2 separate regions of the Homo sapiens genome follow, and region 2 is linked to region 1. Evidence: fine-mapped expression QTL. Tissue or cell type: subcutaneous fat. Region 1 holds a variant in brackets; the other region holds the start of a gene. All regions are shown on one strand. Distances are from middle to middle.

Region 1 (8,055 bases):
ATCTTGGCGAATTTCTGAAATCAGCTTCTGCCCATGCAGCAGGAGCACTGCCTGAGGTTGTGTGTGGAGCGGGAGGTGGGAGCCGCTCAGGTGCTGGGGCTTTATTATTCTGATGAGTTAAGTCTCCAGTGCCAAATCCTAGTGGACTCAGACAGCAAAGTGGGAACTATCTGGTCCACCCAGGAGTATGCCTGGAAGCCCAAGATCATCTTTTCAAAGACAGAGTCTGTCTTCCAACCTCAGCAAAATCAACACTCAAGACTACAGCCTAATCTGTTTTGTCGCTGGCAACCCCCTCTCGAAAGCGTAAACGCTCCCAGGGAGCCACCAGGAACAGATGTGGATGGGCAGCTCCCACCCAGGGCACAGCTGTCATTCACTCGGCTCAGAACTGGGAAGCCGGCCGGGCACAGTGGCTCACGCCTGTAATCCCAGCACTTTGGGAGGCCGAGGCGGGCAGGTCACCTAAGGTCAGGAGTTCAAGACCAGCCTGACGAACATGGTGAAACCTCATCTCTACTAAAAATACAAAAAATTAGCCAGGCATGGTGGTGGACACCTGTAATCCCAGCTACTCAGGAGGCTAAGGCAGGAGAATCACTTGAACCCAGGAGGCAGAGGTTGCAGCGAGCCGAGATTGCGCCTTTGCGCTCCAGCCTGGCAACAGAGGGAGACTCCTTCTCAAAACAACAAAACAAAAACGAACTGTGACGCCCATCTAAGCAGGAGGCACTCCCCATGCAAAGGCATAGCGTGTTCTCTGGAACAGGCGCCTGGGAGAACCGATCCACTCACCTGTTGTGCAGCCTTGTCGGCGAGCAGCGCGAATTCCACAGACAGGCCTTTCAGAGCCTGCTTCAGGGACCCCCACGTGCTGCTATTCAGAGCGGCCCAGGAGGGCAGCGGGGTCGTGTCAGACCCTATTGCACTGAGGGAGCAAGCACACAGGAGAGGAGACACTCAAGGCCTGGAGCTCACCTGGCAGTCGAGTCTGGCATCCCCCCCGACAGATGTCCTCCACGGCAACCTGCGTGACCCCGTCCTAGGACCCTGCTGCTCAAAGAGTGGCCTGTGGGGACCCTGGGAGCCCGGGAGAAAGGGTGGCCCTGGGGCTGCACCTCAGGACCTGCTGCGTCTCTTCTTCCCAACCAGCCCCCAGGTGACATGTGTGCACAGGTGACGGGCACTGCTGGGGCAAGCAGAGTCCCGGGTGGGGTCTCCCCTCCCCTCAGGCAAAGGAAGCGCTGCCAGCCCATGGTCTGTTCTTCCCCAAGTCAAAGGGATCTTTTTTTTTTTTGAGACGGAGTCTCGCTGTATCACCCAGGCTGGAGTGCAGTGGCGCGATCTCGGCTCACTGCAACCTCCGCCTCCTAGGTTCAAGCAATTCTCTGCCTCAGCCTCCCGAGTAGCTGAGATGACAGGCACCCGCCACCACGCCCAGAGAACTTTTTTTTGTATTTTTAGTAGAGACGGGTTTCACCATCTTGGCCAGGCTGATCTTGAACTCCTGACCTCGTGATCCACCCACCTCGGCCTCCCAAAGTGCTGGGATTACAGGTGTGAGCCACCACGCCTGGCCTGGGATCTTTTTTTAAAGTCTCATCCTGACAGTGAAAAAACTACCAGACTAGAAACTGGTGAGCATTTACTCGTGCTCAGAAATCCGTGTTTCAGGGCCGAAATTCTCCCGTGTTTCTTCCAAATATGACCCCCCATGTGCCTGAGCCACTTTCTGCCCCTTCTGAGATGAAACAGGTCAGGATGCTGGTTATTACGGTAAACGCACTTTCCGCCCAAGCCCTTCACCAGCATGGATTCCCGTCCCACCGCGCGTGCCCCTGCAGAAGCTGAAAGGTCACCTACCTTAGCTCCTTCCCGAATATGAGAAGATCTGCCGCATTGTCGATGGCCCGCGATGCGATCCGCTCGGCCCTGTCGCGAAGCTTGTGAAAGCTATTGTAGATGTTCCGGATCAGCTCCCGGCTGATGGCAAACTGAGCCTGGATGTCAGCTGGGAGGAAGTCCTGACATCATGATGGGGGGAGAGACACTGTGTTAGTCGCTGGGGAGCACCTGTCAGACGGCAGCAGCCGGTCCCCCAGAAGCTGAGCCACGGGAGACACAGCAGGTCCATGAGCCACCCCGGGAGCCCCACTCCTCCAGGCCTGCAGGGATCACTCTGTGTGTCCAAAAAAGAAACAAAAACCATCATCACCTGCATGCCACAAACACAAAGACAAATGATCCCATGGGATGAGGACCACAGAGTCCACTGAAATCTCATCACACTGGAGGACCTATCCAAAAACACTCAAATAAGGCCAGGGGCAGTCACTCACACCTGTAATCCCAGCACTTTGGAGGCTGAGGCAGGTGGATCACCTCAGGTCAGGAGTTCAAGACCAGCCTGACCAATATGGTGAAACCCCATCTCCACTAAAAATACAAAAATTAGCTGGGCATGGCGGCATGCACCTGTAATCCCAGCTACTCCAGAGGCTGAGACAGGAGAATTGCTTGAATCCGGGAGGCAGAGGTTGCAGTGAGCTGAGATCGCGCAACCACACTCCAGTTTGGGCGACAGAACGAGACTCTGTCTCAAAACAAACAAACCAACAAAACACTCGAATAATAATCTTGCCGGGCGCAGTGGCTCACGCCTGTAATCCCAGCACTTTGGGAGGCCGAGTAGGGCGAATCACGAGGTAAGGAGATCGAGACTATGGTGAAACCCCATCTCTACTAAAAATACAAAAAATTAGCCGAGCCTGGTGGTGGGCACCTAGTCCCAGCTACTTGGGAGGCTGAGGCAGGAGAATGGCATGAACCCCGGAGGCGGAGCTTGCAGTGAGCTGCGATCACACCACTGCACCCCAGCCTGGGCAACAGAGCGAGACTCCGTCTCAAAAACTAACAATACTAATCTTTAGCTGGATACAGTGACTCACACCTGTACCCCAGCGCTCTGGGAGACTGAGGCAAGAGGATTGCTAGAGCCTGGGAGTTTAAGAACAGCCTGGGCAACATAGTGAAACCCCATCTCTCCCAAAAAATCAAAAAATTAGCCAGGCGTGGTGGAGCGCCTGTGGTCCCAGGTGCTTACAGAGGGCTGAGGCAGGAGGATCACTTGAGCCCAGGAGTTCCATGCTGCAAGGAGCCATGATCACAACACTGCACTCCAGCCTGGGGACCCTGTCCCCAGAAAACAACAAAAATAAAAACAAACAATCTTCAAGTTAAACACAATGAACATAAATTCCTGAAAGACTCTCCACATGGGGGGAAGGCCTCTTCTATGCCGCGTTTATTCCCAAAGACTTTTTATAAGATTTGATACTAACTATCAGAGTTCAGAAAACAGAAAGCTCAGAGAGTAAAATGAAGGTAAAAGATTTGGCCAGGCATGGTGGCTCATGCCTTTAATCCCAGTACTTTGGGGGGCCATGCCAGGAGGATTGCTTGAGGCCAAGAGTTCAAGACCAGCCTGGGCAACATAGTGAGACTTCATCTATACCAAAAACAAACAAACAAATCAGCCAAGTACTGTGGTGCATGCCTGTGGTCCCAGCTATTCTGGGAGGCTGAAGTGGGAGAATTGCTTGAACTCAGGAGGTCGAGGCTGCAATGACCTACGATTGCACCACTGCACTATAGCCTAGAGGACAGAGCAAGACCTTGTCTCAAAAAATAAAATAAAATAGATTTTTAATTTTTGTATGAAGAAGCAGGTTTTTTTCTGGTTTTTTTGTTGTTGTTGTTGTCGTCTTTGACACAAAGTCTCACTCTGTTACCCAGGCTGGAGTGCAATGGCACGACCTGGGCTCACTGCAGCCTCTGCCTCCTGGGTTCAAGCAGTCCTCTTGCCTCAGCCTCCCAAATAGCTGGGATTACAGGTGCCTGCCACCAAGCCTGGCTAATTTTTTTTTTCTTTTTTTTGATGGTGTCTCTGTCGTCCAGGCTGGAGTGCAGTGGCGCAATCTTGGCTCACTCCAACCTCTTCCTCCTAGGTTCAAGCAATTCTCCTGCCTCAGCCTCCTGAGTAGCTGGAATTACAGGTGCACGCCACCGCACCCAGCTAATTTTTGTATTTTTAGTAGAGGCGGGGTTTCACCATGTTAGTCAGGCTAGTCTTGAACTCCTGACCTCGTGATCCACCCGCCTCGGCCTCCCAAAGTGCTAGGATTACAGGCGTAAGCCACCACGCCCGGCCGGTTTTTTGGGGTTTGTTTTGCTTTTTTTTGTTTTCCTTTTTTGTTTTGTATTTTTATTAGAGATGGGGTTTTGCTATGTTGGCCAGGCTGGTCTCAAACTCCTGACCTCAAGTGATCCGACAGCCTCAGCCTCCCAAAGTGCTGGGATTACAGGAAGGAGCCACCGCGCCAGCCTGAAGAAGAGGTTTAAAAAGAAAAAACCAAAAACAAAAAAACTACCAAGTAGCTACCTTAGTCTTTTTTGGAAAAAGACCAAACTTTAAACATTTAATAATAAACAAATGTAACAATGAATCCCCAGAAATCTGAAAAGGTGCTGACACAAGCATCCGTCTGTCTGAGTCACAGAAAAGGGCAGAGGGCACGAGGTGCCTGGAGGGCCTGAGGGCAGAGCTCAGCCGCAACCCGGCCCTGCTGCTTAGAGGCT[C/T]GGGGCCTTGGCAAATGACAGCCTCCCTGAGCCTGTTTCTCCATCCGTAAAACAGGCCTCCCAGCCCTGTGTCGGAGCAACTGAAACGAGGGTTAAATGAGGAAACCATGCGACAGATGTCAGCATAATCCCTGCCACGCAGAGGAGGCAAAATCACTTTGAAGGGTTAAAACTTGTTTCTCTGGTTAAAAAGGGATGTACTCTTCAAAGTTAGAAAAATACCTTGGCCCTCTCCCTCCCCCTCCCCCTCCCCCTCCCCCTCTCCCTCTCCCTCACCCCACAGTCTCCCTCTCATGCGGAGCCGAAGCTGGACTGTACTGCTGCCATCTCGGCTCACTGCAACCTCCCTGCCTGATTCTCCTGCCTCAGTCTGCCGAATGCCTGCGATTGCAGGCACGCGCCGCCACGCCTGACTGGTTTTGGTGGAGACGGGGTTTCGCTGTGTTGGCCGGGCCGGTCTCCAGCCCCTAACCGCGAGTGATCCGCCAACCTCGGCCTCCCGAGGTGCCGGGATTGCAGACGGAGTCTCGTTCACTCAGTGCTCAATGGTGCCCAGGCTGGAGTGCAGTGACGTGATCTCGGCTCACTACAACCTACACCTCCCAGCCGCCTGCCTTGGCCTCCCAAAGTGCCGAGACTGCAGCCTCTGCCCGGCCGCCACCCCGTCTGGGAAGTGAGGAGTGTCTCTGCCTGGCCGCCCATCGTCTGGGATGTGAGGAGCCCCTCTGCCTGGCTGCCCAGTCTGGAAAGTGAGGAGCGTCTCCGCCCGGCCGCCATCCCATCTAGGAAGTGAGGAGCGCCTCTTCCCAGCCGCCATCACATCTAGGAAGTGAGGAGCGTCTCTGCCCGGCCGCCCATAGTCTGAGATGTGGGGAGCGCCTCTGCCCCGCCGCCCCATCTGGGATGTGAGGAGCGCCTCTGCCCGGCCGAGACCCCGTCTGGGAGGTGAGGAGCGTCTCTGCCCGGCCAGCCACCCCGTCCGGGAGGGAGATGGGGGGGTCAGCCCCACCACCTGGCCAGCCGCCCCGTCCGGGAGGGAGGTGGGGGGGTCAGCCCCCCGCCTGGCCAGCCGCCCCATCCGGGAGGGAGGTGGGGGGCGTCAGCCCTCCGCCCGGCCAGCCGCCCCATCTGGGATGTGAGGAGCGCCTCTGCCCGGCGAGACCCCGTCTGGGAGGTGAGGAGCGTCTCTGCCCGGCCGCCCCGTCTGAGAAGTGAGGAGACCCTCTGCCTGGCAACCACCCCGTCTGAGAAGTGAGGAGCCCCTCCGCCCGGCAGCTGCCCTGTCTGAGAAGTGAGGAGCCTCTCCGCCCGGCAGCCACCCCATCTGGGAAGTGAGGAGCGTCTCCGCCCGGCAGCCACCCCATCCGGGAGGGAGGTGGGGGGGGTCAGCCCCCCGCCCGGCCAGCCGCCCCATCCGGGAGGGAGGTGGGGGGTCAGCCCCCCCGCCCGGCCAGCCGTGCCATCCGGGAGGGAGGTGGGGGGGTCAGCCCCCCGCCTGGCCAGCCGCCCTGTCCGGGAGGGAGGTGGGGGGGTCAGCCCTCCGCCCAGCCAGCCGCCCCGTCTGGGAGGTGAGGGGCGCCTCTGCCCGGCCGCCCCTACTGGGAAGTGAGGAGCCCCTCTGCCCAGCCAGCCGCCCCGTCCGGGAGGGAGGTGGGGGGGGTCAGCCCCCCAGCCCGGCCAGCCGCCCCGTCCGGGAGGTGAGGGGCGCCTCTGCCCGGCCGCCCCTACTGGGAAGTGAGGAGGCCCTCTGCCCGGCCAGCCGCCCCGTCCGGGAGGGAGGTGGGGGGGTCAGCCCCCCGCCCGGCCAGCCGCCCCGTCCGGGAGGGAGGTGGGGGGGGGTCAGCCCCCCTGCCTGGCCAGCCGCCCCGTCCGGGAGGTGAGGGGCGCCTCTGCCCGGCCACCCCTACTGGGAAGTGAGGAGCCCCTCTGCCCGGCCACCACCCCGTCTGGGAGGTGTGCCCAACAGCTCATTGAGAACGGGCCAGGATGACAATGGCGGCTTTGTGGAATAGAAAGGCGGGAAAGGTGGGGAAAAGATTGAGAAATCGGATGGTTGCCGTGTCTGTGTAGAAAGAAGTAGACATGGGAGACTTTTCATTTTGTTCTGTACTAAGAAAAATTCCTCTGCCTTGGGATCCTGTTGATCTGTGACCTTACCCCCAACCCTGTGCTGTGTCCACTCAGGGTTAAATGGATTAAGGGCGGTGCAGGATGTGCTTTGTTAAACAGATGCTTGAAGGCAGCATGCTCGTTAAGAGTCATCACCACTCCCTAATCTCAAGTAATCAGGGACACAAACACTGCGGAAGGCCGCAGGGTCCTCTGCCTAGGAAAACCAGAGACCTTTGTTCACTTGTTTATCTGCTGACCTTCCCTCCACTATTGTCCCATGACCCTGCCAAATCCCCCTCTGCGAGAAACACCCAAGAATGATCAATAAAAAAATAAATTAAAAAAAAAAAAAAAGAAAAAAAAAAGAAAAATACCTTGGCCCTGGTAGCCAGCTTACAGTTCAGGAATTCGTCCCCGACGCACTGTGCTGACTCCTTTAACTTGTTCTGCACATCCTGCAAAAGGAAAACACACAGCTTCACCCTCTTCTACTAGCAGCAAGAAAGCTGCTGTGGGGTATGGGTCACTGTGGAGCGGGAGGTCGTCTTTCCTCAGGAGAAACACATTTCCATATGTTGGCTTTGACATTAGTATTCTGCAATCTCTTGACTCTCCCTTAGATGTTTTTCTCACCAAACAGGACAGCCTGGCTTCACAGCAGGAGCACCACAAACCTGCAGCCTCTCTCCAGAGGCACAGCCACTCCATCCGCAGACGGGGGGCAGCTCTCCAGAGAAACAGCCACTCCATCCACAGACCAGGGGCGGCTCTGCAGAGAAACGGCCCCTCCATCCACAGACCCGGGGCGGCGTCAGCCCCAGAGATACCTGAGACCCTGGTAGCTTCCAAAAACGCAATAGAACAGGGCAAAAGTGTCTTCCTTCCTGGGAATGCATCCATGGCGCCAGGGACACCAGAGCCCAGGGAGCTGCTGGGCAGAGGGACAGGCCCAGCCCCTGGCACCGGAGCCCTCTCATCTGAAAGAGGCCTCCTGGGCAAAGCCGTGCCTTAAAGTCAGGAGCCACCCAGGAGATACAAGGGGAAACCCTAATATGCAGCTGTTTGCGTGTCCAGGAATTCTCAGGTTTCAGAGATGCCTTAAAGATCATCTGACTCAACTCTCATTTTACAAAAAAAAAAAAAAAAAAAAAAAAAAAGACCTGAGGCCCAGCATGGTGCGTGCCTGTAGTCCCAGCTACTCAGAGCCTGAGGCGGGAGGATCGCTGGAGCCCAGGGGTTCAGGGCCAGCCTGGGTAACATAGTGAGACCCCATCTCTAAAAACAGAAAGCAAGCAAGAAAACTGA
Region 2 (8,055 bases), 48 kb after region 1:
GAATAGTTTCAATATAAAATCCAGCCAGGCTCGGTGCCTCATGCCTGAAATCCCAGCACTTTGGGAGGCCCGGGTGGGAGGATTGCTTGAGGCCAGGAGTTCCACACCAGCCTGGGCAACACAGCCAGACTGTCTCTACAAAAAATTTTAAAAATTGGCCAGGCGTGGCTGGGCGCAGTGGTTCACCCCTGTAATCTCAGCACTTTGGTAGGCCGAGGCAGGCAGATCATGAGGTCAGGAGATCAAGACCAACCTGGCTAACACGGTGAAATGCCATCTCTACTAAAAATACAAAAAATTAGTCAGGTGTGGTGGCAGGCACCTGTAGTCCCAGCTACTCAGGAGGCTGAGGCAGAAAGAAGAATGGCGTCAACCCAGGAGGTGGAGCTTGCAGTGAGCCAAGATCGCACCACTGCACTCCAGCCTGGGCAAAAGAGTGAAACTACGTCTCAAAAAAATAAATAAATAAAAATAAAAGGAACAAAAGAAAGCTAGAGAATATACTACGCTAGGGAAACATGAGCACACTTATATAAGGAAGTATATGTTTCCTGAGTACATATATGAATAAAATGTGAAAACAGAACTAAAACGGTCCATCCCAAACTGAGAACAATGGTCACCTCTCAGGTACAGACAGGAGATGATGGCAATTAGGATGGGACTTTCACTTAATCTACAATGTTCTATTCTTTTTTAAAGAAAATACATTTGTCCATGTATGGCATAACTGAAAATTAAGTTTTTATAAAGAGGGTTGCCCTAGAGAGCATTCACAGCTTAAGCTTCAAAGAATTCAAATAGAATGAGACTCTTAATGTGGAAAAGTACAACAAGCACATTTTTTTCTGGCAACACCGAAGATGCAGGAGATTTCACAGTTCCCACATGAATACCACCAGTGGGCTCTGGCTGTGTGGCCAAAACTCTAGAGAAGAGGAAATTCACTGTATACCCGTAAGGCACAACCACTCCTTCAAACCAACCTTAGTGAACGTGTAAGTCACACACATAGTCTCCGGACAATATTCAGAGACTTAACTTTTTTCTTTGCTGTTTTTGTTTTTGTTTTCTTTTTTAAAAATTTGAGACAGGATTTCGCTACGTTGTCCAGGCTGGTCTCTAGCGCCTGGGCTCGGGCGATCCTCCCTCCTCAGCCTCCCCAAGTGCTGTGATTTCAGACGTGAGCCACAGTGCTTGGTCTCAAGGCTGAGGTTTTCTCACTCCAGCCCACCCAATCAGGGTCCCCATCAACACACATTCCCTTGACATTGCCCACTTTGGGCAAATTACTTACCTCTGGATTTTAGTTTTCTCAATGTAAAAAGACCTGCGAGGCCGGGCGCGGTGGCTCACGCCTGTAATCCCAGCACTTTGGGAGGCCGAGGCGGCTAGATCACGAGGTCAGGAGATCGAGACCATCCTGGCTAACATGGTGAAACCCCGTCTCTACTAAAAATACAAAAAATTAGCCGGGCGTGGTGGCGGGCGCCTGTAGTCCCAGCTACTCGGGAGGCTGAGGCAGGAGAATGGCATGAACCCGGGAGGCAGAGCTTGCAGTGAGCCGAGATCACACCACTGCACTCCAGCCTGGGCGACAGAGCGAGACTCCGTCTCAAGAAAAAAAAAAAAAGACCTGCTATACCACTTCACCCACCTGCCAGGATGACGACCAAGTTTCAAACAGAAGGACAGTCTACGTCCCAAGAGTCTGTGAGCCCCACTTTCAGACTTGCCTGGTTACAGGAAAGGGCACTGTGAAGCACTGCCTTGTCCCAGCAACCCCCATCTGTGGATCCCATCAGCACTCCTGATGAAATCACCACTGCCCCCAGAAAAAGCCAACTACCTACAGGAATTCCAGGCCACACCAAAGGGAGGGCGGTCTCCCAGAGACACAGCTCCCTCAGGTGTACAGCGCTCAGACTATCTCTAAATTACACCATTATGGTAGCCTCTGGAGTCTACTTCTGTGAAGCCTGAAGGAAACACAGTCCCCTACACCTGCAGAGGACCCCTCCAGCAATGCCAAATTGCTTTACAAGCTGAGATAGCAGCAGCATTCCGATCCAATCACAGCCTACCTGTTCCCAAGTGACCCCTCGGAAAGGGTCCCGCCTGAGACTCACGCTGGCCTCCAACATGTGACTTCATGGACACAATGTTCTAATCAGCGAGAACTATCACGTGCCTCCCCTTACACTGATACAAGGGAAAGGAAAAAATAACTGAAGACCCATTCTGAAAGGCCCTTCTTTCTAGACACAGTCTTCACATCGAGGATGCCCACCAAATGCAACAATCCCTCCCCTGCTCCCCGCTGCCGTTTCTCGCCGACGAAGAAACTGTCTACCAACCCTCCAGAGCTCACTTCAGTCATCACCTCCTCAGCGACACCTTGCCAGACCTCCCCACAAGGGGATTCCCCAATCTTGTCCCCCCCCACCAAGAAGAAACCGTAACTCACACCAACACCCACCTACATCTCTTCTCTGGCAGCTAGGACCACAGGAAGGAACATCCAGAAATAAGGGGCACCCTCCTGTATTCCTTCTAATGTTTAGCCTCGTTTGTTTTGTTTTGTTTTGTTTTTTTTGAGGCGGAGTCTCGCTCTGTCGCCCAGGCTGGAGTGCAGTGGCGCTATCTCGGCTCACTACAAGCTCTGCCTCCCGGGTTCACGCCATTCTCCTGCCTCAGCCTCCCGAGTAGCTGGGACTACAGGCGCCCGCCACCGCGCCTGGCTAATTTTTTTTGTATTTTTAGTAGAGACAGGGTTTCACCGTGTTAGCCAGGATGGTCTTGATCTCCTGACCTCGTGATCCGCCCGCCTCGGCCTCCCAAAGTGCTGAGATTACAAGCGTGAGCCACCGTGCCCAGCCATGTTTAGCCTCATTAACCCAAATCCCTTAAAGAGAAATACAAGAGGCCAGGCGCGGTGGCTCACGCCTGTAATCCCAGCACTCTGGGAAGCTGAGGTGGTTGGATCACCTGAGGTCAGGAGTTCGAGACCAGCCTGGCCAACATGGTGAAACTCCGTCTCTACTAAAAATACAAAATTTAGCCGAGTGTCATGGTGGATGCCTGTAATCCCAGCTACTCAGGAGGCTGAGGCAGGAGAATCGCTTGAACCCGGGAGGCGGAGGTTGCAATGAGCCGAGATCGCACCATTGCACTCCAGCCTGAGTGACAGTGAGAATCTGTCTCAAAAAAAAAAAAAAAAGAAAAGAAAAGAAAAAGAAAAAAGAAAAAGACAGAAATACAGGCCAGGCACGATGGCTCATGCCCGTACTCCCAGCACTTTGGGAGGCCAAGGCAGGAGGACCGCTTGAGGCCAGAAGCTCCAGACCAGCCTGGACAACATAGCAAGATCCCATCTCTACAAAAATAAAAAAAATTACCGGGCGTAACTGCACGCGCCCGTAGTCCCAGCACTTTGGGAGGCTAAGGCGGAGGATCACTTGAAAGAGAGAGAAAAGCAGCTACACATCTATAGATTCGGTTCACAGATGAGAAAACAGAGGTCCCGAGAGGTGAAATTACTGGCCCAAGACCACACAACCGACAGGAGCTTGGGAGAGAGGATGTGGCTAGGAAAGGCGCCCAAGTCCGGGGAAGTGGCCCCCAGTGCCATCGCTCAGCGTGACCAGGCAGGGCAGAAGAGCAGGGCACCAGGAACGGGGCGAGGAGGAAACTGTCCCCGAGGACGCCTCTGAGAGCCCCGGGAAAGCGCCTCGGAACGCGGCCAGCTGTAACCTGGACAGGGCTCTCCCGGCGCAGGAGGGCAGGGGACCCCGAGGGACGGAGGCGCGAGAGAGCACGGGGACCCCCAAAGGACAGGCGCGCAGGAGGGCAGGGGGACCTCCGAGGGACTGGGGCGTGGGGCCGAACGCGGGGCGCGGGGGCAGGAAACGAGTCGGGGACCAAGCGCGGCGGCTGAGCCCCGTCCGCCGGGGGTGGTCGGGCCGCGCGCCCTGGGCAGGTGGGGGCTACCGCCGCCCCACGCCCTACCTGACGCCGGGGGATCCGCCTCCTCGTCAGCCTCCGCCTCAGCTGCCGCCCCGACTGCAGCCGCGGGCAGCGGGTCCATCGCGCGGCCAGTCATGTGAGCCCGCGCTCCCACGTGACTTCCTCCCGCGCCACCCGGCCGCGCAGCCCTGCCGCGCCGCGCCCTCGCCCCGCCCACACCCCGCCTGGTCACGCCCCCTCCCCCGCGCGCCACGCCCACAGTCCGCCCCTGCGGGCCCGCCGCGCTCCTCGCCCGGCCTCGCCACGCCTACAACCCGCCTAGCCACGCCCACATGCCCCTCCCCGTCCACGTGGACACGGAGCCTGCTGGTGGCGCAGGTTACCTCCCCTCAGGTTGGACCTCCGGACTCGCAGGTGCACTACCTCAGGCGCAAGCCTGCACCCACCGCACCCTCATTCACTCCCATCTCTCCTCGCCCAGTCACGCCCTTGTTCGCTCATTCACCGGTTACACTGGGGTTTTCTGACTCGCACTTCCTCATTCATCCACTCACCCACTCATTCGCTCACCCACGCACTGCATCCTGCATTCATTCATTCACCCACTCACTCACTGCATCCTACATTCATTCATCCACTCACACACTCACTCACCGCATCCTGCATTCATCCAGCCACTCACTCACTCACTGCATCCTGCAATCATTCACCCACTCACTCACTGCATCCTGCATTCATTCATTCACCCACTCACTCACTGCATCCTGCATTCATTCATTCACCCACTCACTCACTGCATCCTACATTCATTCATCCACTCACACACTCACCGCATCCTGCATTCATCCAGCCACTCACTCACTGCATCCTGCATTCATTCATCCAGCCACTCACTCACTGCATCCTGCATTCATTCATTCACCCACTCACTCACTGCATCCTGCATTCATTCATTCACCCACTCACGCACTGCATCCTGCATTCATTCACCCACTCACCCACTCACTCACTGCATCCTGCATTCATTCATTCACCCACTCACCCACTCACTCTCTGCATCCTGCATTCACTCATTCACTCACTTATTGCATCCTGCATTCATTCACCCACTCACCCACTCACTCACTGCATCCTGCATTCATTCATCCACCCACTCACTCATGCACTGCATCCTGCATTCATTCATCCATTCACTCACTCACTCACTTACTGCTTCTTCATACGTTCATTCACCCACTCACTCACTGCATCCTGCATTCATTCATCCACCCACTCACTCATGCACTGCATCCTGCATTCATTCATCCATTCACTCACTCACTCACTTACTGCTTCTTCGTACATTCATTCACCCACTCACGCACTGCATCCTGCATTCATTCATTCACCAACCCACTCACTGCATTCTGCATTCATTCAGTCACTCACTCACTGCATCCTGCATTCATTCATTCACCCACTCACTCACTTACTGCATCCTACATTCATTCATTCACTCACTGCATCCTGCATTCATTCATTCACCCACTCACTCACTTACTGCATCCTGCATTCATTCACTCACTCACTAACTGCATCCTGCATTCATTCACTCACTCACTAACTGCATCCTGCATTCATTCATCCACCCACTCACTCACTCACTGCATCCTGCATTCATTCATCCACTCACTCACTCACTGCTTCTTCATACATTCATTCACCCACACTCACTGCATCCTGCATTCATTCACCCACTCACTCACCCACTCACTGCATCCTGCATTCATTCATCTACCCACCCACTCACTCATGCACTTCATCCTGCATTCATTCACCCACTCACTCACTCACTGCATCCTGCTTTCATTCACGCAACCACTCACTCACTGCACCCTGCATTCATTCACCCACTCACTCACTGCATCCTGCATTCACTCACCCACCCACTCACTCACTGCATCCTGCATTCATTCATTCACCCACTCACTCACTCTGCATCCTGAATTCATTCACACAACCACTCACTCACTCACTCACTGCATCCTGCATTCATTCACCCACCCACTCACTGCATCCTGCATTCATTCATTCACTCACTCACTCACTCATGCACTGCATCCTGCATTCATTCACGCAACCACTCACTCACTGCATCCTGCATTCATTCACCCACTTACTCACTGCATCCTGCATTCATTCACCCACTCACTCACTCACTGCATCCTGCATTCATTCATTCACCCACTCACTCACTCACGCACTGCATCCTGCATTCATTCACACAACCACTCACTCACTGCATCCTGCATTCATTCATTCATTCACCCACTCACTCACGCACTGCATCCTGCATTCATTCACACAACCACTCACTCACTGCATCCTGCATTCATTCATTCACCCACTCACTGAGTCACTGCATCATGCATTCATTCATGCAACCACTCACTCACTCACTGCATCCTGCATTCATTCATTCACCCACCCACTCACTCACTGCATCCTGCATTCATCCACCCACCCACTCACTCACTCACTCACTGCATCCTGCATCTATCCACCCACCCACTGGCCCACTCAGGTTTGCTGGCTGCCACCAGGAGGTCAGGAAGCCCTGTGCTGGGTGCTGAGAATACAAAGATGTTTCCTGTGCATTCCTTGATCTGGAGGAGGCACAGATGGCCAGAGTGGAGCAAGTGTGCTAACTGTTCCAAAACGGGAGCAAGGCTGTGCAACACACCGCAGAAGAGGGTGAAGGGTGAAGGGCGATCCCTTCCCTACATGGGTGAAGGGATCCCTGGATGGGTGGTACCAGAGTTAGGGCTGGAGGAATAAGGAGTTAAGTAGGAGGAGGGCACGAAGGCTCTGAGACATCAGCTGCAGATGCTGTGGTCATTCCAGGCTAAAAGTGTGGGGTTTGGCATGGAGATTGGTAGGCCTGCATCAGGAAGGGCTTGTTTCCAAAGGAAGGATCCTGGACCTTCTTTTTTTTTTTTTTTTTTTTTTTTTTTTTTTTTTTTTTTTTTTTTGAGACAGAGTCTCACTCTGTTGCCTGGAGCGGAGGGCAGTGGCATGATCTTGGCTCACTGCAACCTCCGCCTCCCAGGTCAAGCGATTCTCCTGTCTCAGCCTCCCGTGTAGCTGGTATTACAGGCGTGTGCCACCACACCCAGCTAATTTTTGTATTTTTGTAGAGATGGGTTTTCACCATGTTGGCCAGGCTGGTCTCGAACTCCTGACCTCAAGTGATCCGCCCACCTTGGCCTTCCAAAGTGCTGGGATTACAGGTGTGAGCCACCGTGCCCGGCCATCCTGGACCTTCTAACGCTGATGTCACACAATGTCCGGGGAGTTGATTACAGAACCAAGAGCCCAGAACCATGTCAGTTCCTAGGAAGCGTCCCCTTCTCACAAGGTAGTTACTTCCTCTGGCTATAGCTGCTGGACCCTGCCTCGGTAACAGATGACTGCACCTAGGACGCCATAGGGTCCCCGCACACCAGGACCTCCATGCAAGCAGGCACACCATTGATGCTCTCTCCACCATAACCTGGGAGGCCAAGGTTGCAGTGAGCCGAGATCGAGATGTCCTTCTGCTGATGGACATATAACAACTTTCCCTAGGCACAGTGGGACATGGCAGGATCCTGTGACCTCCCCCCATATCTGATAGCTGCTTCCTTCCTCCACCCTCACTTCCTTCCAGCTGCTGTTGCTGCCAAATAATGTACTCAGCACTTTCCCTGTGCCACGCACACATATATACTCTGCCCACTTCCTGATCATATTTTTATTAGAGGCAGGGTCTTGCTGTGTTGCCCAGGCTGGACTGTAGCTGCCCAATCATAGCTCACTATAGCCTCAAACTCCTGGCCTCAATCAGTCCTCCCACCTCAGCCTCCCAAGTAGCTGGGACTAAGGCACAGGCCACCATGCCCAGCTGTTTCCTACGTATTTTTGGTCTCAAACTAGATTATAAAATATTTACTTATTAAATTTGTAGCCAGGCACAGTTGCTCACACCTGTAATCCCAGCACTTTGGGAGGCTGAGGCAGGCAGATCACCTGAGGTCAGGAGTTCGAGACCAGCCTGGCCAACATGAGGAA

Which allele goes with the higher level. Alleles are on the strand shown, and positions count from the first base shown. SD is a standard deviation of normalised expression in the study named.
In carriers of allele C in region 1, the expression in subcutaneous fat of the gene that starts at base 4,122 in region 2 tends to be lower than with T alone (moderate effect, 0.42 SD a copy in FUSION).

The links. PIP is the estimated chance that this variant, and not a neighbour inherited with it, causes the effect.
Region 2: SNX8 starts here. The variant in region 1 is fine-mapped to the expression of SNX8 in subcutaneous fat (FUSION, PIP 0.95).

The regions. Positions count from the first base shown.
Region 1 is chr7:2,262,435-2,270,489 of GRCh38, forward strand. It overlaps SNX8 (sorting nexin 8), which reads right to left. Exons shown (of 11, transcript NM_013321.4): 5 at 7,125-7,205; 6 at 1,864-2,024; 7 at 796-928. Among named protein-coding and RNA genes, the nearest start is that of MIR6836, 8.9 kb to the left of the region's middle. RefSeq lists an enhancer at 7,623-8,055. The variant C/T (reference allele first, on the strand shown) is at 4,639.
Region 2 is chr7:2,310,320-2,318,374 of GRCh38, forward strand. It overlaps SNX8 (sorting nexin 8), which reads right to left and starts at 4,122. Exons shown (of 11, transcript NM_013321.4): 1 at 4,009-4,122. The coding sequence starts at 4,102. RefSeq lists enhancers at 1,772-1,841, 1,862-2,031, 2,232-2,311, 2,352-2,481, 4,226-4,726 and 3 more and silencers at 3,798-4,037, 4,138-4,407.